2 separate regions of the Homo sapiens genome follow, and region 1 is linked to region 2. The links come from fine-mapping of genetic effects on gene expression. A gene starts in region 2. The other region holds a variant in brackets. All regions are shown on one strand. Distances are between the middles of the regions.

The links. PIP is the estimated chance that this variant, and not a neighbour inherited with it, causes the effect.
Region 1: its variant is fine-mapped to the expression of CLPSL2 in pancreas (GTEx, PIP above 0.99).

Annotation. Positions count from the first base shown.
Region 1 is chr6:35,791,330-35,801,479 of GRCh38, forward strand. CLPS (colipase) reads right to left here and starts at 5,994. Exons shown (of 3, transcript NM_001832.4): 1 at 5,876-5,994; 2 at 4,402-4,524; 3 at 3,653-3,948. The coding sequence starts at 5,959. The coding sequence ends at 3,817. It also overlaps a transcript of CLPSL1 not described here. The variant T/TTA (reference allele first, on the strand shown) is at 6,348.
Region 2 is chr6:35,771,626-35,782,061 of GRCh38, forward strand. It overlaps CLPSL2 (colipase like 2), which reads left to right and starts at 4,973. Exons shown (of 3, transcript NM_207409.4): 1 at 4,973-5,077; 2 at 5,834-5,956; 3 at 7,730-7,927. The coding sequence starts at 4,994. The coding sequence ends at 7,825. CLPSL1 (colipase like 1) reads left to right here and starts at 9,394. Exons shown (of 3, transcript NM_001010886.5): 1 at 9,394-9,584. The coding sequence starts at 9,486. It also overlaps the pseudogene CMPK1P1. RefSeq lists a silencer at 4,954-5,083.

The sequences.
Region 1 (10,150 bases), 20 kb after region 2:
GCCGGGCACGGGGGCTCACGCCTGTAATCCTAGCACTTTGGGAGGCTGAGGCAGGCGGATCACAAGGTCAGGAGTTCGAGACCAGCCTGACCAACATGGTGAAACCCCGTCTCTACTAAAAATACAAAAATTAGCTGGGCGTGGAGGGCACGCCTGTAATCCCAGCTACTCGGGAGGCTGAGGCAGGAGAATCACTTGAACCCGGGAGGCGGAGGTTGCAGCGAGCCGAGATCGTGCCATTGCATTCCGGCCTGGGTGACAGAGTTAGACTCTGTCTCCAAAAAAAAAAAAAGAAAAAGAAAAAGAAAATACATTTAATGGGCAGGTGTGGTGGCTTGTGCCTGTAATCCCAGCACTTTAGGAGGTTGAGGTGGGCGGATTGCTTGAGCCTAGGAGTTTAAGACCAGTGTGGGCATCATGGTGAAACCCCATCTCCACTAAAAATATAAAAATTAACTCCGGGCATGGAGGCTCACACCTATAATCCTAGCACTTTCGGAGGCCTAGGTGGGCAGATTGCCTGAGCTCAGGAGTTCGCAACCAGCCTGGGCAACATGGTGAAACCCCATCTCTACTAAAAATACAAATAAATAAATAAATAAATAAATTAGCTGGACGTGGTGGCATGTGCCTGTAGTCCCAGCTACTCGGGAGGCTGATTCAGGAGAATTGCTTGAACCTGGGAGGCAGAGGCTGCAGTGAGCCGAGATCGCACTATTGCACTCCACTCTGGGCAACAGAGACAGACTCCATCTTCCCCCCGCCACAAAAATAAATAAATAAATAAATAAATAAATTAGCCAGGCATGGTGGCACACGCCTATAGTTCTAGCACTTGGGGAACTGAGGTGGGAGGATCACTTGAGCCCAGGATGTCAAGGCTGTAGTGAGCCATGATCATGCCACTGCATTCCAGCCTGGGTCACAGAGTGAGACCCTGTCTCAAAAAAAAAAAAAAGTATTTAATACACCTAACCTACTGAATATCATAGCTTAGCTTAGCCTACCTTAAATGTGCTCAATCAGAATGCTTACATTAGCTGGGAAAAATAACACAAAGCCTATTTTAGAATAAAGTGTCGAATATATCTCATGTAATTTATTGATGTTCTACTGAATGCATATTGCTTTTGCACCATCATAAAGTTGAAAAATTGTCAGTCAAACCATTGTAAGTGGGGACCATCTGGTTCCTTGAGCTGTGGTTAGACTGTGCCTCTGCTGTGTAGGCGTGTGATGCTGAAAAGCAGCAGAAATTGAGAGTCTACAGGAGCACTGGCCGTTGGAAATAAAATGGAAGCTACATAATGGTTGGGGTCTTGGTCACTTGCTTCTGCAGAGCCCAAAGCCCAACTCCCTACTCACTTTTGAAGACCAGGGACATTTTCCTTATGCCCCCCACAGTCCAAAACACGGTGCCAGGCACACTGTGGTCATTCAGTGAACACATGAAGGGGACATGAATGCAGATCTCCAGGACCGAATGTGGCACCAAGAAGCGTGACTCAGCCCTGCTCAGGGCCTGAGACCCCTCCTGGGTTAAGGTATTGAAAGCTCCTCTTGTTGAGCACATAATTCATATGTGGCAGACACCATTACCTGGTTTCCTAATAGCCATTGCCCCCTTCCCTGCCAACTGAAACCCAATATTGTTTGGGCATCAATGAACCTGGCCCCAGGAGAAGGATCTTATTCCCTTTGCTTTCCCAGCGTCCCTTGCAGCTAGAAGTAGTCAGATAACCTAGTTCTAGCCACTGAGATATGAAGAGAAGTCGGCCTTGAGGATTTGAGGAAAGATAAGAAGAGGGTATGGTCCAGGTGCCATGGTTCATGCCTGTAATCCCAGCACTTTGGGAGGCCGAGGCAGGTGGATCACCTGAGGTAAGGAATTCAAGATCAGCCTGGCCAACATGGTGAAACCCTGTCTCTACTAAAAATGCAAAAAATCAGCCAGGCGTGGTGGCAGGCGCCTGTAGTCCCAGCTACTTGGGAGGCTGAAGCAGGAGAATCGCATGAACCCAGGAGGCAGAAGTTGCAGGGAGCCGAGATCGTGCCACTGCACTCTGGCTTGGGCAACAAGAGCAAAACTCTGTCTCAAAAAAAAAAAAAAAAAGGGTATGCAAGAAGAAACTCTCTGCTCCTTCTCCCGCCTTCCCAGCTGCCAGCTACTCCATGCTTCCTGCCTTCGAATACGGTGAGAACGTGAAGTCATGAGCTGCTGCTAAGGCATGTGGCAACCTTGAAGAGAAGGTCAAGAGCTACCAGCCACCAAAAGAATGCCAGCACTTCCTGTGTCTTTGCTTTGGATTCATGAGAAATATACGTTCCTATTTGCTTCAGCCATAATTACTTGGGTTTTTCTGCTACTCACAGTTGAATGCAATCCTAACTCATAAGCCTGTGGTTACAGGAGGATTCATTGATCACAGAACTGCAAGATCCTGGGGCTGGGACGACATCGAAGTTTCATTCAGTTCACTGTCCCTCACTCTCTGTGGGAATCTCCTCTCTAGCATCTCCACCGAGGGGTCAGTGAGCTTCCACCTGCGTACCTGGATGATGGGCACCTCAGTACTGCCTAAGGTAACTCATGTTTGATGGCTCCAGGGGATATACAATTTTTATATTAAGGCAAAATTAAATTCCTTGCAGTTTCCACCCATTTTTCTTAATGCGAATAATTGGGAAAGAAAAAGGAATCATAAGGCCGGGCACGGTGGCTCATACCTGTAATCCCAGCACTTTGGGAGGCTGAGGTGGTGGATCACCTGGGGTCAGGAGTTTGAGACCAGCCTGGCCAACACGATGAAACCCCGTCTCTACTAAAAACACAAAAATTAGCCGGGCGTGGTGGTAGGCGCCTGTAATCCCAGCTACTAGGGGAGGCTGGGGCAGGAGAATCGCTTGAACCTGGGAGGTGGAGGTTGCAGTGAGCCAAGAGATCACTCCGCTGCACTCCAGTCTGGGCAACAGAGAGAGACTCTGTTTCAGAAAAAAAAAAAAAAAGGAATCATAGAAGCAGGGCAGTGGAGTTAGATGGTAGAGTGCCAACATTTTCTGATTATGTGACATTGGGCAAGCTCCTCTCTGAAACTTGGTCTCTATCTATAAAGTGGAGATGAGAAATTCTCCCTCCTGGGATCCTTGTGAGCATTTGCTGGCAGAGAGTAAGCTCATAGCAATTGAGAGTGGTCTGACCCCTTAACACATGAGTTGTGTCAGCTAGCTGTCATATTTGAGAATTGTGTCCAGAAAAGAGGTGAGAGCCCAGGATTCTGATGCCTCTGATGCAGGGTGACGAACATGGGCCATTAAAACTCCTTACCCACAAGTGTGTGTGTGTGTGTGTGTGTGTGTGTGTGTGTATGTGCGCGCGCATGCACATGTGCCCGCTTGTCTCTTTGAGAACCGGAGGGACAAGGAGGGCATCCCAGGTAGGTGTGACTTCTCCCCAGAAATGGAGGGTTTCCTAGGCTGGCTGGGTCTCCTTCACAGCTTTGTCTTCAGTCTCCAATCTGTTTGGCCACAACTTCTTCAGCCCCAGACCCATCCCTTGTTCTTCTGACCTGCCTGAAGCCTGCCCTGGTGGACCAAAGGCCTGATGCAACTTCAGAGAAGATGCTGAGTCAGAAAGAATATGCAGGAGACTGGGAAAGGTTTGCAGGAGGCCTTTAATTGTGAAGAGCGCAATCAGAAAACAGATATGCTGGTCAAGGAGGTGGCCAGCCCGGGAGATGCGCTGGAGCAGGGGAGAGATGCCCCTGCGCCTAGTGGCCTACAGCATTCTGGGCTAGGTGTGGGAGTGGGTGGGCAGTCTCACTGCTTGGAGCGTCCAGCGTCATGGCAGATGCCAAAGTTGGTGTTGGTGATGGAGCCCACGATGGTCTTGTCTCCCTCACAGGTCAGGCCACGCTCACAGGGACACTTGTAGTAAATCCCATAGAGCGTCTGCAGAGACACAGCCAATGGAGTCAAGGCTATGGGGAGATACTTTGGACATCACTTGTCCCCTGCCTGACCTAGAGAACCAGTAGGCCAGCCTGTGTTTTCGGGGAGTGCCTCTCCCACCTGCCTCCCCAGGGGTGCCGTGGGCCCTGGAGACCCCAGCTCTGACCTCTGCTCTGGCTCATTTGCTCTTACTAGCTTGATCTCTCTGGGGAGCCTCTATTTACCCAGCCATGAAATGGGGATAACAAATCCCCACCCCCACCCATCTCACTGGTCACTCGGGAGGGTCAAGAGAGATGATGGGATGGGAAAGTGCTTTGACACCTGTCGACCTCCCTCTCGTCTCCTCAACATTCAGTGTCCAGGCTGACCCCCCTCCCTGATCCCACTCACAAGTGTTCAGGGCCCTACTCCCCATTCTCCCCCACCCACGCCAAGTCCTCAGGCACCCACCTTGACAGAGCACTCGCTGTTCTCGCTGGCCATGGATGTGCAGCGGGCCAGGCCCAGCGCACTTGAATGCTGGCAGCAATTGCTCTTACACTGGGCACTATTCATGCAGAGCTCACCGTTCTCCTGCCAGGAGCAGCCAGTCAGCCCAGGCCCCACTCCCTCAGGTCCCTTCTCCATTCAGACCTGTACCCACCACACACTACCACTAACAGTGTCTCCCCTGGTAGGGATGTGTGTGAAGGAGTCCATCCCCTGGGTCTGGTGGCCTCTGTGCCCCCCACCCACGTGAGAAGTGGGCATGCGGTGACAGAGAAGCAGACTTGCACAGAGGGTCAGGACCCCTGGGTTCTAGTACCGGCTGTGCTACCAACCTCCTGTGTGACTCTGGGCAAGTCACTGCCTCCCAAGCCTCAGTGTTCCCATTTGGAATGTGCACACAAGGCCCCTAGACAAGTTCTCCAAACCACTCTGGGTCCCACACCTCTTTAAGGAGGCGGTGAAGATTGCATCTCCCTGCAAGACTCCTTCCTCCCCCAACAGATCTGATCTATAATCTCCAAGGGTCCTGGACCTCCAAGTCCAGCCATGGCCCCAAGTTAAGAGAGTTCAGAACCTTTCAACCGCATGGACGTTCTGGAAGGGCTTTCCCAGCCAAGACCCATGGTGGAGAGGTGGTGTGGGGCAGTGGTGGGGCCCCAGCTGAACCACTTTCCAGCTATGTGACCTCAGGCAGGTTGCTCACCCTCTCTCTGTCTGAAGACAGGGCTGACTCTGAAAACACCTCCCTCAGTGGTTATTATGAGAACAGAATGAGTAAACATCTCCGAGGCATCTCCATAAGTCAGAAGCTGGAATGATTGGCGCAAAGCATTTTCTCAGGATGGAAGCCCAGGGCTCTGGATTTTTACAAAGCTCCCTCGTAGGGCCAGGTGAGGTGGCTCATGCCTGTAATCCCAGCACTTTGGGAGGCCGAGGTGGGCGGATCACGAGGTCAGGAGTTTGAGACTAGCCTGGGCAACATGGTGAAACCCTATTTCTACTAAAAATACAAAAAATAGCTGAGCGTTATGGCAGGCACCTGTAATCCCAGCTTCTTGGGAGGCTGAGGCAGGAGAATCATTTGAACCCGGGAAGCAGAGATTGCAGTGAGCCGAGATTGTGCCACTACACTCCAGCCTGGTGACAGAGCAAGACTCCGTTTCAAAAAGAAAAAAAAGAAAAAAAAGGTCCCTCATAGCCAGGTTGAGCTGCTGCTCTGAGCATGCTCCAGTTGGAGCTGGAGAGGGGCTGATCAGCCTTTCCTGTGGCCTCTGGGAAGAGGCATAGGACAGGACATGGAAGTAAACAGAGGGATGCAAGATGCCACTCCTCCCAGCCCCTGCCAGTCCAGGTGGAGACATCAGAGGTCAAGGTCCAAGCTTAGGAAGTCTTCATCTGGGGACTCAGGAGGCGCCTCCCCTGAAGACCCTCTTACCAGGTTGATAATGATCCCCCGGGGGCCAGGAGCTGCATAGGCCACAGAGAGGGCGACAAGCAGGAGGATCAGGATCTTCTCCATGGTGAGTGGGACAGCTGGTGTGGGTGGCGGGAGACAGAGCCAGCTGTGGTGATGGGGCTATAAAAGGGGCCCTGACCTCACGAGATCCACCTGCATCCCACAGGGCTGGCCGTGGGCAGAGGCACAGCTGTGGCCAATCTGCTGTGGGGCGGTTCCTGATAAGGAAACTGGGTGAGTACCTGGTGGCCTTTTTCGTGTGTGTGTGTGTGTGTGTGTGTGTGTGTGTGTGTGTGTTGGTGATAATTGTGTTGCATCGTGGTTAAGAGTATGGACTGTGTACAAGTTATTAGTGAGGCAAACTTACTATCTGTTCCAACTATTCTGCCTTTCATCTTATCTGTCAACTAAGGATAATTTAAAGAGTTGTGAGGGTTGAATTAATACACAT[T/TTA]TATGTGTTACATATATATAAACATTATTATATACAATTATAAGAATATATTTATATTGTATATTCCCATATGCCACATAAGCAGTGGGTAAGGGTGGCTGCCCTTGTGTCTTGAGCTCCTGGGCAGTGCCTGGACGAATCCAAGGCAAGAGAGGCACCTATGGTGTGAGTGCCTGCTTACATTCTGTGTACTTGGGGCCTCTCTGCCTCACTATAGTCAGGCCTTGCCTTTGGCCCACCCAAGCCCAGGTGTCTAGCAGTGTCAGACTCCAGGGACGAGGATCCTAGCCTCCCACCCCTCAACCTTCCTTCAGTCTCCTCGGGGGATTCCAGGCCATGCCCAGATCCCTGGGGCTGACAGTTCTGCAACCCCCAGCAGGCCAGGGTGTGTGTGCTTTCACTTTGGCACCCTCCCCCTGCCCTCACACCAGGGGCTGCCTGCAGGCCTGACTCAAGGGCCCTTAGGAGGCCCTTCCTAAATGCCTCTCTCCCCTTTCCTTTCTACCTCACTTACTATCTGCAATTCCAGCATCAGATACTCACCCCTTTAGTTAAGGTTTCCACTCACGCTGCCCCCTACCCAAGGCCACGTGCGCGCGTGAGCAGTCGCTAGTCCTGGCTGAGAATGAAGAGGTCTCATGAGCCTCAGATGGAGCAGGGGCCTCAGGAAGCTGGGAAGGGCACAGCTGCCTGAGTTTGCTCAGGCATGGGAACAGAGCAGCTTTTCCTGAAGGACTAGTCATGGCAGCCAGAGGCCCCTGCCCTTCCCCTCTCCATCCCAGGAGGTAGAAGACAGCTCCACTGAGAGGCCCAGGCCTCAAGCACAGCTTTTAATTTAATTTAATTTAATTTTTTGAGACAAGGTCTCACTCTGTCACCTAGGCCGAAGTGCAGTTGTGCCATCTTGGCTCACTGCAGCCTCCACCTCCTGAGATCAAGCAATCTTCCCCCTAAGCCTCCCAGGTCTAAAACTCGTGGGCTCAAGCAATCTTCCCACCTCGGCCTCCTAAAGTGTTGGGATTACAGGTGTGAGCCACTGTGCCCAGCCTCAAGCACAGCTTTGATCCAGACCAAGCTGGCTTCAAAATTCAGCATTTACTGGAGCTACGTGGCCTCAGACACATTATTGAAAGTGAAGCTCCCTGAACCTCACTTTCCTTATTTATCTTAGGGGGATAACGCCTCCTACTTCCTGAGGTCATGATTAAGACAATGCACGTGGAACACCTTCGGAAGTGCCTGGCACATGGTGGGTGCCCAGCCATGTAATATGACCCCCTTCCTCTCACCTTTACATCCCTGGGGTGTGGAATGTAGAGAAATAGCTGGAGGAACAACCAGGAGACTCTCAAAATGAGAAAAACCAATTTGGTTCCAGCGATGCAGAAATACCATTGATGAAAGAACACTATCCCCCCTCTCTTTTATAGAACTCAATGTTTGAAAGCACTTTTTCCTATGAGTTCACTCTGATCCTTCCTTCTCTTTTCTCTACCTGCTCCCCACCCCCAGGACCTCTGTGAGGTGAGCCACAGAGAAGGGAATCACTATTCCCTTCTCACAAGTCAAGATGGAGACTGGCAAAGGAATCAGAGGAGTGATTTCTCTCCATGAAGGGAGCTGTGAAAACCATCAGCCCTGTCCCTAGTTGGTCTCAGCCAAGCTTGCAAAGAAAAAAGGCTGGAGTTTTTTCCATTACAAATGAAGTGTAGCAAAGAGAACTTTGACACTGTATGTGCTTCTAAAAGGAAAGCAAAAATTAAGTACCTGTCAATGAAAAGAGTCAAACTCTGTACAATATTTGAATAGATTTATTCTGAGCCAAATATGAGCAACCATGGCCTGTGACACAGCCCTCAGGATGTAACCACTGAAGGGGTTCACCTTGCCCACTACCTAGATAGAGCCGATTCATCAAGACAGGGGAATTGCAGTGGAGAAAGAGTATTTCATGCAGAGCCGGCTGTGCAGGTGCAGGAGACTAGAGTTTTAGAGTTGTTGTTGCTGTTGAGACAGAGTTTCGCTCTTGTTGCCCAGGTTGGAGTGCAATGGCATGATCTTGGCTCACTGCAACCTCCGCCTCCTGGGTTCAAGTGATTCTCCTGCCTCGGCCTCTCGAGTAGCTGGGATTACAGGCATGTGCCACCATGCTCGGCTAATTTTGTATTTTTAGTAGATATGGGGTTTCACCATGTTGGTCAGGCTGGTCTTGAACTCCTGACCTCAAGTGATCCACCTGCCTCAGTCTCCCAAAGTGCTGGGATTACAGGCATGAGCTACCATGCCCAGCAGGGAGCAGAGTTTTTGAAGATAACTTGGTGGGTGGGGGGAAGCCAGTGAGCCAGGGGTGATGATTGGTCAGAGATGAAATCATAGGGACTCAGAGCTGTCTTCGTGCACCCAGTCAATTACTGGGTGAGGGCCACAAGATCAGATGAGCCAGTTTATTGATCTGGGTGGGGCCAGCTGATCCATCAAGTGCAGGGTCAGCAAAATATCTCAAGCACTGATCTTAGGAGTAGTTTAGGGAGGATCAGGATCTTGTAGCCTCCAGCTGCGTGACTCCTAAACCATAATTTCTAATCTTGTGGCTAATGTTAGTCCTACAAAGGCAATCTAGTCCCCAGGCAAGAATGAAGTCAGCTTTGGGAAAGGGCTGTTACTGTCTTTGTTTAAACTATAAACTAAGTTTCTCCCAAAGTTAGTTCAGCTTACGCCTAGGAATGAACAAGGACAGCTTGGAGGTTAGAAACAAGATGGAGTCACTTAAGTTAGATCTCTTTCACTGTCTCAGTCATAATTTTGCAAAGGTGGTTTCAGAATGAGGAGAAAACAAAGAAAATGACCCCCTTTTGAGCACTCCGTAGCTTTTATGGCACCTCTACCTGACAAAGTTTATGTAAAATGGAAATAACGTGGTCTTTGTGCACATTTACATTAAGGAAAAAGAGCCCTAAGGTTGACCTGCAAACTATAGAATTCCTAAGTCATCTTTTTCTCTATTTTTCTTTTCTGCCTGCTCTAAATCTTCCTTCCTTCCTTCCTTCCCTCCTTCCTTCCTTCCTTCCTCCCTCCCTTCCTTTCGATGGAGTCTCACTCTGTTGCCCAGCCTGGAGTGCAATGGCACAATCTCATCTCACTGCAACTTCTGCCTCCCGGGTTCAAGTCATTCTCCTGCCTCAGCCTCCTGAGTAGCTGGGATTATAGGTGCCTGCCACCACACCCAGCTAATTTTTTGTATTTTTAGTAGAGATGGGGTTTCACCATGTTGGCCAGTCTGGTCTGGAACTCCTGACCTCGTGATCCGCCCACTTTGGCCTCCCACAGTGCTGGGATTACAGGCGTGAGCCACCGCGCCCGGCAATCTGCTGTTATTTTTCTATTAAGAGAAAAACCACTGTTTAGATCCAACAAGTTCTTTTTGCAAGCCAGGTGAATTTGTATTTATTTCATGGCTAAAAGTTCTGAAGTAAAAGCTACAAGGTGTGTGTGTGTGTGTGTGTGTTTAAAAGGCCTTTATAATTTCCATACTTTTATGTTTAATTGGCAATTAAATCTGTTTTAATTTCCCTCTAGAACACCAGACTTTTCTTGGCGCACCTTATAATGTAAATTTTGCTGTTTGACTTTCATCTGAACTGTTTCCTTTAATATGCAAATTTAAGGCTATTTAGCTGTCAACTGCCTAGGGTTGTGAAAGAGGTTATCAAGAATTTGATAACTCTTGAGGTCAGGTGTTTGAGACCTTCCTGGCCAACCTGGTGAAACCCCGTCTCTACTAAAAATAGAAAAATTAACTGAGG
Region 2 (10,436 bases):
GAAGTAAAATGAGAAGTGTGTGTTCTGAGCCCTGCCCCTGGTTCAGAGTATGTTGTGTGGGTGGGGTGACTAGAAGCTGGGAAAGAGCTGATCTCCCTTGGGCATGCTGGGCCTCTCCTTCTAGAGACCCTCCTGTCCTCACAGACAGAGCAGGGCAACCCCACCCTCACCCTGCACCCCTGGCTCAATGGCTCAGGTCCCCCTGCTCTGACTCTAGCATTGCCACCACCAACCCAGCTTTCCACTGAGGAGCCACCTCAACAGGGGCTATTCCCACAGACCCTCAAGTTCCTTTGCACGCTGACCGCCCCATCTCCAATCTGTATCCCCAACAAGCAGACACCATCTCCTTGCTGTTCTACCCACAGCTACTCACTGTCACTTCCAAACCTTTGCCCACCCTGTACCCCTGGTTGGAAACCCTTAGTCTCTCTGCTTGCCAAATCCCAGTCCCCCTTCAAGGCTTAGCAAAACAGCGCGGCCCTCTCCTGCCAGGGTCCGGGACATACAACCTTGAGGCCTCCACCTCCTCACCTCCAAACACTTCCCACTCTGGTCCTCTTCTCTAGGAAGGCTTTGCTGATCTATCTTTGCATATCAAACTCTTAGGGCACCCACTCGTTCCTCACTCTCCCCAGATTACTTTTAGAGTTCCTTCAGGAAGGACTTGAGTAATGCGCAATTTTCATGAGGTCAGTTTTCCCCAGAATTTTATTTTGGATTTCAAAGACTGATAAGACTTCCAAAAAATTCTGAGGACTAACAGAATTTGTGCACATATATTTAATATATTGGCCAAAAGCCAGTTTCGGTGGCTCAAGCCTGTAATCCCAGCACTTTGGGAGGCCGGTGGATCACCTAAGATCAGGGGTTCAAGACCAGCCTGGCCAACATGGTGAAACCCTGTCTCTACTAAAAAAAATACAAAAAAATTAGCCAGGCGTGGTGGCGGGCGCCTGTAATCCCAGCTACTTGGGAAGCTGAGGCAGGAGAATTGCTTGAACCTGGGAGGCAGAGGTTGCAGTGAGCCAAGATGGCACCTCTGCACTCCAGCCTGGGTGACAGCGCAAGACTTGGTCTCAAAAAAAAAAAAAAAGTATATATATATATATATATATATATATGCGCCAAAAAAGAACATGAACAATGAAACAAAACTACTACTGTATCGTGGCTATTATTGCTTTTTTAAAATATATTTTTAAATATTTTATTTTATTTTTTACCTCCAAATACCATCACCATTTTATTTAATTATTATTACTTTTTTGAGACAGTCTATCTCTGTCACCCAGATTGGAGTGCAGTGGCATGGCTCACTGCAGCCTCAACCTCCCAGGCTCGAGATCCTCTCACCTCAGCCTCCCATGTATTTGGGACCATAGGCAGATGCCACCATGCCCAGCTAATTCTTTTATTTTTTGTAGAGACAGAGGTCTCACTTTGTTGCCAGGTTGGTCTTGAACCCCTGATCGCCATTATTTCATAAAAGCACATTTTAACACCAAAGAAGTAGAAAAGACATAATTTCAGAATAAATAATTACTTTTTAAATTAAATACATTTCCCTGCCTGGGCAATATGTTGAGACGCTACCTCTACTAAAAATGCAAGAATTAGCTGGGCGTGGTGGCGCGCGCCTGTATTCTCAGCTACTTGGAGGGGGGCTGAGGCAGGAGACTTGCTTGAACCCAGGAGGCGAAGGCTGCAGTGAGCCCAGATCGCGCTACTGCACTACAGCCTGGGTGACACCTCAAAAACAAATTTTTTTTTAATAATAATAAATTGAATATATTTACCTTTAACAAAAACACTACTACATTATCCTTATTGTTTTCATTTTGCTGCAGACCAGTGAGAACATTGTCATGGAAACCACCACTTGCACCACCAGAAAGATGCAGAAGAAAAGAAGTGAGACGTTAGAGACTGTCAGAGGAGGGGAAGGTGAAGAGGCAGGAAATAGGGGGTAAGAAGTCCACCAGCAAGGTGCTCCCCTGTCCTGAACTGACCCCCTTCTGCTCACTGAAGTCTGAGGTGGCCAGTTTTGGGCCCTGGGCAGAGCTGTGGCCATGCTCACAGGTCAGGCAGCTCAGGGATTCCCGGCGCTGGAGACCCTGGTGATCTTGTTCCTACTCCCCCGCAATGCAGAGGTACCCTGGACATGTGCCTGTGACCGGTGCTGGCAGGCCATGGTACAGGACTTGGAGTCAGGAGCAGAGCTAGGCCTGGCTCTGCTACTCACCAGCTGAGTTACTGGGAGAAGTCCCTGCCTTCTCTGGGCCTCGGTTTCCTCAACTGAAAATAAAGGTTCTGAACTAGTTGTTTTTGAGGAAACCGGAAGATCTCTGGCTTAAGAAAAAAAAAAGCCATGCCCATAATATTTTGTACAGAATTCCAGGGGCTTCACCACCCCTCAGGGCCTTCAGTGGGTTCCCCAGGGGCTGCTAACCCTGACACGCAGTTGCTGGCCCCTTGCCTTCAAATTTGCCACTTTCCTAAGCAGTCAACAATACTTCTCAAGTATCTAACGGTCATGGGGGTATGGGCAAAGGAAGCCGGTGAAGCAGTACAAGGAAGTATCCATCCCCAGGCCTCCTCTCCAGTTCACAAATGGTCTGCGTGGATGGGTCGCTAGTCAGCCAAGGTAGCAGAACACACATATGAAGAGAGCTCAGACCGCGACTGCTGGAGCCCCCTTACTAGGTAATGATGGGAACCCCCTTACTAGGGCCAAAGCCCTCTGGCCGCCCGCAGCAGTGTAGATCAGTGGTAAGAACTTGGACCCAGGAGCTAGAATGCCCTGGATTTATATCTGACTCTGCCATTTAATCCTGTTCCTTGGGCAAGTAACTTTATCTTGAGCCTTCAGGTTCCTAGTCTGTAAAACAGGGCTAAGAGTTACGCAGCAGAAATGATAGTAGATGCTAAATATTCCAAGACTCCTTTGAATTTCCCAGCCTCCCTTGCAGAAGGTTAGAGGGTTGGGATCATGTGACTAGTTCCAGCAGGTGGTTTGTGAGTGGAGAAGGCAGGTCTTCCATGGAGACCTTGGATGCTAGTTTTTTTTTTTTTTTTTGAGACAGGGTCTCACTCTGTTGCCCATGCTGGAGTGCAGTGGCACGATCATAACTCACTGCAGCTTCAGCCTCCCGAGTAGCCAGGACTACATGCATGTGCCACCATGTCTGGCTAATTTCTTAAATTTTTTTTGTAGCAATGAGGTCTCACTATATTGCCCAGGGCTGGCCTTGAACTCCTGAGCTCACGAGATCCTCTCAGCCGGGCATGGTGACTCCCACTGGTAATCCCAGCACTTTGCGGAGGTTGCAGTGAGCCGAGATTGTGCCATTGCACTTCAGCCTGGGCAATAGCGTGAGACTCTGTCTCAAAAAAAAAAAAAAAAAAAAAAAAAAAAAAAACCAAAAAAACCCCCAAAACAACTGATCCTCTCTCCTTGGCCTCCCGAAGTGCTGTGAATACATGCATGAGCCACCATGCCCAGCCAGAGGCCAGTCTTATAGATGGCTACAGGATGGAAGAAGGGTATCTTGCCCCAAATCAGACTGTACATAAAGCATTATTGTGCCAAGCCACGAAATTCCAGGAGTTCTGTTGTTACAGCCAGTGTTAATTACTCTGTGACAGCTAGTGTTAATACAGGGAGGGCTCACGGAAATAATGGATACAAGGCCCTCTGAGTGCGGTGGGGGCTGTTATTCTTGGCTGTTATTCCCCACCAAGACAGGATTCCTCGGTTCATTTCTTAAGCGAAACTTCAAAAGCAGAAGCAGGCTGGGAGTGGTGGCTCACGTCTGTAATCCCACCACTTTGGGAGGCCGAGGCAGGAGAATCTCTTGAGCCCATGAGTTCAAGACCAGCCTGGACAACATAAGGACAACCTGTCTCTATAACAAATATTAACAATACAAAATTAAAAAAAAATAGAAATTAAAAAAAAGCAGAAGCAGGCAGGTGGGGTGAGGTGGAAGCTTCATCCATAGGGAAGTCCTGAGGAAGGCCTGCCTCCCCCGGTTCCAGGATTGCTCTGTGCAGCTCTAGCTCTCCCTTAACCCTCCTCCCTATTCTGAGTTTTCTTCTCTTCCCACTTCTCCATTTTGCCCCCACATCTTGACTTTCACACAATTCACAGACAAATCCTTAGACAATTAATAGAATGATTAAGACTGCAAGAGATTTAAGACTTAGAGACCATCTTGTCCCACCTCCTGGTTCTTACAGAAGAGGAGAATGGGGCCTGCAGCGGGTGTGAGCAGCCCAGAGGGTGGGGCTGGATTATCCCGAAGGTAAGGGGAGAATCTGGGGCTGCAAGGGCAGACAGAGAATCAACATCAGGAAGGAAGCTCTTTTTATTTCAGCATATATGTTTTGTGCCGTTTATAAAAATAAAGTTTTGAGGCCAGGTGCGGTGGCTCACACCTGTAATCCCAGCACTTTGGGAGGCTGAAGCAGGACCATCACTTGAGGCCAGGAGTTAGAGACCAGCCTGGGCGACATGGGGAGACCCCCGTCTCTACAGAAATTTTTAAAATTATCCCGGCGTGGTGGCGCACACCTGTAGTCCCAGCTACTCGGGAGGCTGAGGCAGGAGGATCACTTGAACCTGGGAGGCGGAGATGGCAGTGAGCCGAGATCACGCCACTGCACTGGGCGACAGTGCGAGACTCCGTCTGTAAAATAAATAAATACAATAAAATAGAGTTTTATCTTACAATAAAAATAGAGTTTTATCTTACAGTTTCAAGCTTCTACTTGGAAGTAACACGTATGGAGGCTCCCAGGGCCCCTACAGTCTGGAATCCCGCCCGTGCGAGCCTGAGCGCCTTTCCTCCCTCCTTCCCTTCCGCAGGCGTCCTCGCCCTCCACGTCCCTCCTCCGCCGGGGTGGCCTGGGGCGCCGGGTCACGTGGCCGGGGAAGAGGTTTTATCCCGCGGCCCCTCGGAACCCCGCCGCTGCTCTGCCGCCCAGGCCCATGGCCGCAGCCCTGGCGCTCGTGGCGGGGGTCCTGTCGGGGGCGGTGCTGCCCCTCTGGAGCGCGCTTCCGCAATATAAAAAGGTGAGCCGGGGAGCGCGCCCAGCCGGCCGCGACCGCAGGAGAGGGTGGCCCCGCCGCCGGGGCACTGGAGCCCGAAGGCGCCGGGCAGCCTGAAAGGGAGAGGTGGGTCCGGAACCACACCCAGGCGGGTAGCCTGGGGCATCCTCAGACGGACTTCAAAAGCCGCTTCACTTTCCCCTGGTGGCCTCAGAGGGGAGAGAAATTGGCCTATGACCAGCACCCTCGCTCCCTCCACCTCCCCCGCCCGTGCCCCTTCCGATGGCCTCAGTCCTGGGCTCGCTTCCCTCCCCAAACTGCTCACAGGCAAACCCACCCTGCATGCTCTGGTTTCTCCTCCTCTTCTTCCACCTCCTCTCACTGTCTAGTGATTCTTCCAGGCACGAGGGCTCTCCCCTTTTCTCCTCTTTCTCTCCCTCTTTTTCGAGCCCGCAGCCCCTTCATTCTCATCCCCCAACCCTGCCCCGCAAAATGGGACTTAAGAGTACACACCCCATGGGACTCATGGAGGTGAGGGGGGTCCAGGAAAGGAGAGGCCGAGGGAAAAGTGCTAATCCCCCTCTCCTCCTCTCTGCTGCCCTGGGTCCTGCTGAGGGGCCGGGGTGGGGCTGGGGGGGGAACCAGCCCCCCAAGGGGTGACAACCTCATGACTTCTCCTGGATCCCTGGGCTCTTTGGCAATGGTGGGAACCCTCCCCTACCCGCCCACACGACTCAGGGATTGCTCCCAGCCTGGCAGACATTCTGCCTGTCCCCACAGAAAATCACAGACAGGTGCTTCCACCACTCTGAGTGCTACAGTGGCTGCTGCCTCATGGACTTGGACTCCGGTGGAGCCTTCTGTGCCCCCAGGGCCAGAATAACCATGATCTGCTTGCCCCAGGTGAGGCCCTAGTATGGGGCAACTTCTGGCAAGTAGAGAAGCGGGCAGGGAGGTTAAAAAAAAAACACCTGGCCCCACCTGTTTTTTCACCTCTGTCTGGAGTGCCCTTCTTCTTCTCCACTTGGCAAACTCCTACTCATGGTGCAAAACAACTCCAGCCACCTCCTCTGAGAAGGCTTCCCTCCTTGGAGCTCCTGTACCCTGGGGTCAGACCCTCAGCAGACCATGTATCTCCCTAACTGGCCATGTCTTTTCTCTGCCTCTCCCAGTGGTTGGAACTCTTCAAGGGCAGGGATCGCATCATATTCATCTATGAAGCACCTACCCCCAGCTTAGTATCTGCACATAGTAGGTGCTCAATAAATGCTTATTGTTGTTTGTTTGTTTGTTTCGAGATGGAGTCTCGCTCTGTCACCCAGGCTAGAGTGCAATGGCATGATCTCGGCTCACTGCAACCTCTGCCTCCTGGGTTCAAGCGATTCTTGGGCCTCAGCCTCCCGAGTAGCTGGGATTACAGGGGTGCACCGCTATGCCTGGCTAATTTTCGTATCTTTGGTAGAGATGGGGTTTTGCCATGTTGGCCAAGCCGGTCTTGAACTCCTGACCTCAGGTGATCCACCTGGCTCGGCCTCCCAAGGTGCTGGGATTATAGGCATGAGCCACCGTGCCCGGCCAATAAATGCTTGTTGAATGAATGAATATCTCTTCTCTCACACCACTGAGGCAGGGTAAGTAGGAAATGACCTTCCCCTTACTAGTCCCCATCTCCCTGCCACAGTGACATGATTTCTTGAGAGGAGCATGGCACTGCAGTGGCAGGACCACAGCTTTGCAGTTGGACCTGAGTTTAAATCCTGACTTTTCCACACCCTATCTTTGTGACTTCAAGCAGGTCATCATGGCTCTCTGAGCCTTAGTTTCCTCATCTACAAGGAGAGGCTAAAGTACCTACCCCACCAGGCTGTTGGGAAGATTATGTGGTCCTGGCAAGGAGAGTGTGCAGTCCAGCATGGTTGTCACTCGCTTTTAGGAATGCAGGGAGCAGAATGCTCAGTACGCCCTGTTCCTGCCCACCTGGCCCTGGGCCCAAACCTTTCTAGGATGGATGGACCCAGCCTCTATGTCCCTGTGTGGGGAGTTGCCAATGCCCTAAGGAAGCAGCAGGGCCCCTACCATGGCCTGACCCTATAGCTGAAGTGGCTAGAGGGTTTTTATTTTTTTTATTTTTTGAGACAGAGTTTTGCTCTTGTTGCCCAGGCTGGAGTGCAATGGCGTGATCTTGGCCCACTGCAACCTCCACCTCCTGGGTTCAAGCAATTCCTCTGCCTCAGCCTCTGGAGTAGCTGGGATTACAGGCATGTGCTAATTTTTATATTATTAGTCCATGACCATGTTGGCCAGGCTAGTCTCAAACTCCTGACCTCAGGTGATCCACCCGCCTCGGCCTTCCAAAGCGCTGGGATTACAGGGGTGAGCCACCGCGCATGGCCTAAAGGGTCTTTTTATTATCACCACTTGATCTGCTCTATCTCATTTAGTCCTCACAACAACCCTATGAGGGGGGTTACTATTACTGTCCCCATTTGACAGATGAGGAAACCGAGCTGGAGAGGTTCATTGACTTGCTGAAGGTCACGCAGTTATAAGCTGTAGAGACAGCCCAGGTCTGTCTTACTCCAGGCCTGGTACTCTTGGTTCTGGTCCCCAAGAAGTTTAAGTCCCCATCCTTCCTGCATCCTGGTGACTCCCGATTCTCATACCCACTCCCTGCAGACCAAGGGAGCTACCAACATCATCTGCCCTTGCCGGATGGGCTTGACGTGCATATCCAAGGACTTGATGTGTTCCCGCCGGTGCCATATGATTTAGAGGAAGATGCAGGCTGGTCACTGCTCCCTTGGGGCCATAGGCCCTGGTTGCCACCAACTTGCTCCAAATCCAGCTCCTGAGACATTAAAGTCACTTCCTGTCCTTGGCCTCTGTCTGTACTTTCTGGGCGAGGGGACCTGGTGGAGATTGTACCAGTCCAGGGGGCAGGCAAAAGGGGAGACTGGAGGCATGAATGAGCTTCTAATGGGATTTGGCCCTGTCCGGAGGTCAGGGTAGAACTGCAGGAAGGGAATGGCACAGGGAGGGTGTGGTGGAGCAGGGGCTGGGTCTGGGAAAGGGCTGATTCTCTGGTTGGAGGGCTGTGTGGGAGAGACGGGATTGAGGAATGTACCTGGAGAGTGTATGTTGGGGTGCCTATGGAGGGGTGTGTGGTAGGGAGAGACTAGGTGGAGGTATCTGAATGTTTTGCGGGGCGGGTTGTGGGGCACAAAAGGGTAGAGATCATTAGAGAGTTGGTGAGAATGTGCAAAGTATAAATGCAGAAATGCCTGTGGTGGGAAAGGGACCTGGTGCATGGATGCCTCCGCTCTCTCAGGTATTGTCGGTTCACTGCATGGACAAAGAAACTGAGGCCCAGAGAAGCGACATGACTTGCCCTAGGTCATATCATTGGGGTAGCAGTGAGGCCTCTTTCTGCTGCAAGTATCTTAAAAACCAACTCAAATTGGTCTAGGTGAGGAGGGGATTTACTGGTGATGGGAAATGAAAGTCCAGAGGTCAGGCAACCCTTAGGTAGGGCCAGAGCCAGCAGCTCTCAGGCTGAATTCCTTCCCAGTAGTCACAAACATTCCAGGTGTCACCTAATAACAGGTAGGATTTATTGAGCACTTCCTATGTGCCAGACACTGTGCAAAGTGCTTTCTTTTTCATTTAATTAAAAAATTTAAGACAGCACCCAGGCTGGAGTGCAGTGGCTCGATCGCAGCGTACTGCAGCCTCAACCCCCTGGGCTCAAAAGATCCTCCCACGTCAGCCTCCCAAGTAACTGGGACTACAGGTGTGTGACACCATGCCCGGCCAATTTTTTTTCTTTTTCTTTTTCTTTTTTTTTTTTTAATAGAGACAGGGCCTCACTGTATTGCCCTGGCTGGTCTCAAACTCCTGGGCTCAAGTGATCCTCCTGCCTCAGCCTCCCAAAGTGCTGGGATTACAAGCATGAGCCACTGCGCCTGGCCCAAAGTGCTTTCTTAACTGTATTGACTCATCTTTTTGTCACAACAGGGCTATAGTAGGTGTTATAATTATCCCTATTTTACAAACAGGGTATCGAGGCTCCTAAAGTAAGGGTTGGAACTGAGACTTGAACCCAGACAATCCTGCCCCAGAGGCCAGGCTCTTAACCACAAATCCACCATGTACATCAATACTGTGCCTTTCAGAGAAAGAAAACATCTCTGTTCCACAATTTTCAGCAAACATCCTAAGATCGGTTCTGATTGGATTGGCTTAGTCTGCCTGAACTAATTATTGTGGTGGAATTTGCTGATTGGCCTAGCCTGAGTATTGTGCAGGATGGGAAAATTCTGACGGGGTTGGGTGCTGGTTTTACATGGTGTTCCCACAGCTGGGAGGACACCCACATGGTCGGCGTGCAGGATATTTCGCTGGACCCTAGAAAAGCCACCACGACCTGTGGGCCATGATGCTACCCCAATGGCTGCTGCTGCTGTTCCTTCTCTTCTTCTTTCTCTTCCTCCTCACCAGGGGCTCACTTTCTCCAACAAAATACAACCTTTTGGTAAGAAAGCTGGAGAGTGCAGTCACCTCCCCCTCCACTGTCCTAAGGCCTGTACTATTTGGGGAGGTGAGCGGGCATGGGGGCTAGTGTGGGAGAAGGCCAGAAGTGGGGGCAGCAGGGAGTGTTGGGTGGAAGATGTCTCGGAGGAAAGAGAGAACAACCTGGTCCTGGAAGCTGTGCCAGGGCAGTGCCAGGTGCTGCTGCCACAGAGGTGAATGTGAGAGAGCCCCCCTGCCCATGCGCACATGTGGTAAGGGAGACAGATATTCACTCATGCAACACATTTTTATTGAGCACCTACTATATGTAAATTATTTTTCTACATTTAGTGATAGGGCTGTGAGCAAGAAAGATAAAAATCCTTGCCCTTGTAGAGCTGTCACTCTAGTGTGTGAGGCAAAGAAGTAAAACATTACAATAGATGCTATTAATAATAGCATCTATCTCAGGTGATAAGCAAGGAAAGGGAAAATAAGAATCGAGCTGTGGGAGTGGTGGTGTGAGAAGGGTTTGCAGGTGTTTTTTTTTTTTTTCTTTTTCTTTTTCTTTTTTTTGGGACAGAGTCTTGCTTTGTCACCCAGGCTGGAGTGCAGTGGGGCAATCTCGGCTCACTGCAAACTTAGCCTCCTGAGTTCAAGCGATTCCCCTGCCTCAGCCTCCCGAGTAGCTGAGATTACAGGCACCCACTGCCACGCCCAGCTAATTTTTTTTTCTGTATTTTTAGTAGAGACAGGGTTTCACCGTATTGGTCAGGCTGGTCTTGAACTCCTGACCTCAAGCAATCCACCCGCCTTGGCCTCCCAAAGTGCTAGGATTACAGGCGTAAGCCACCGCACCTGGCCAGGGTTTGCA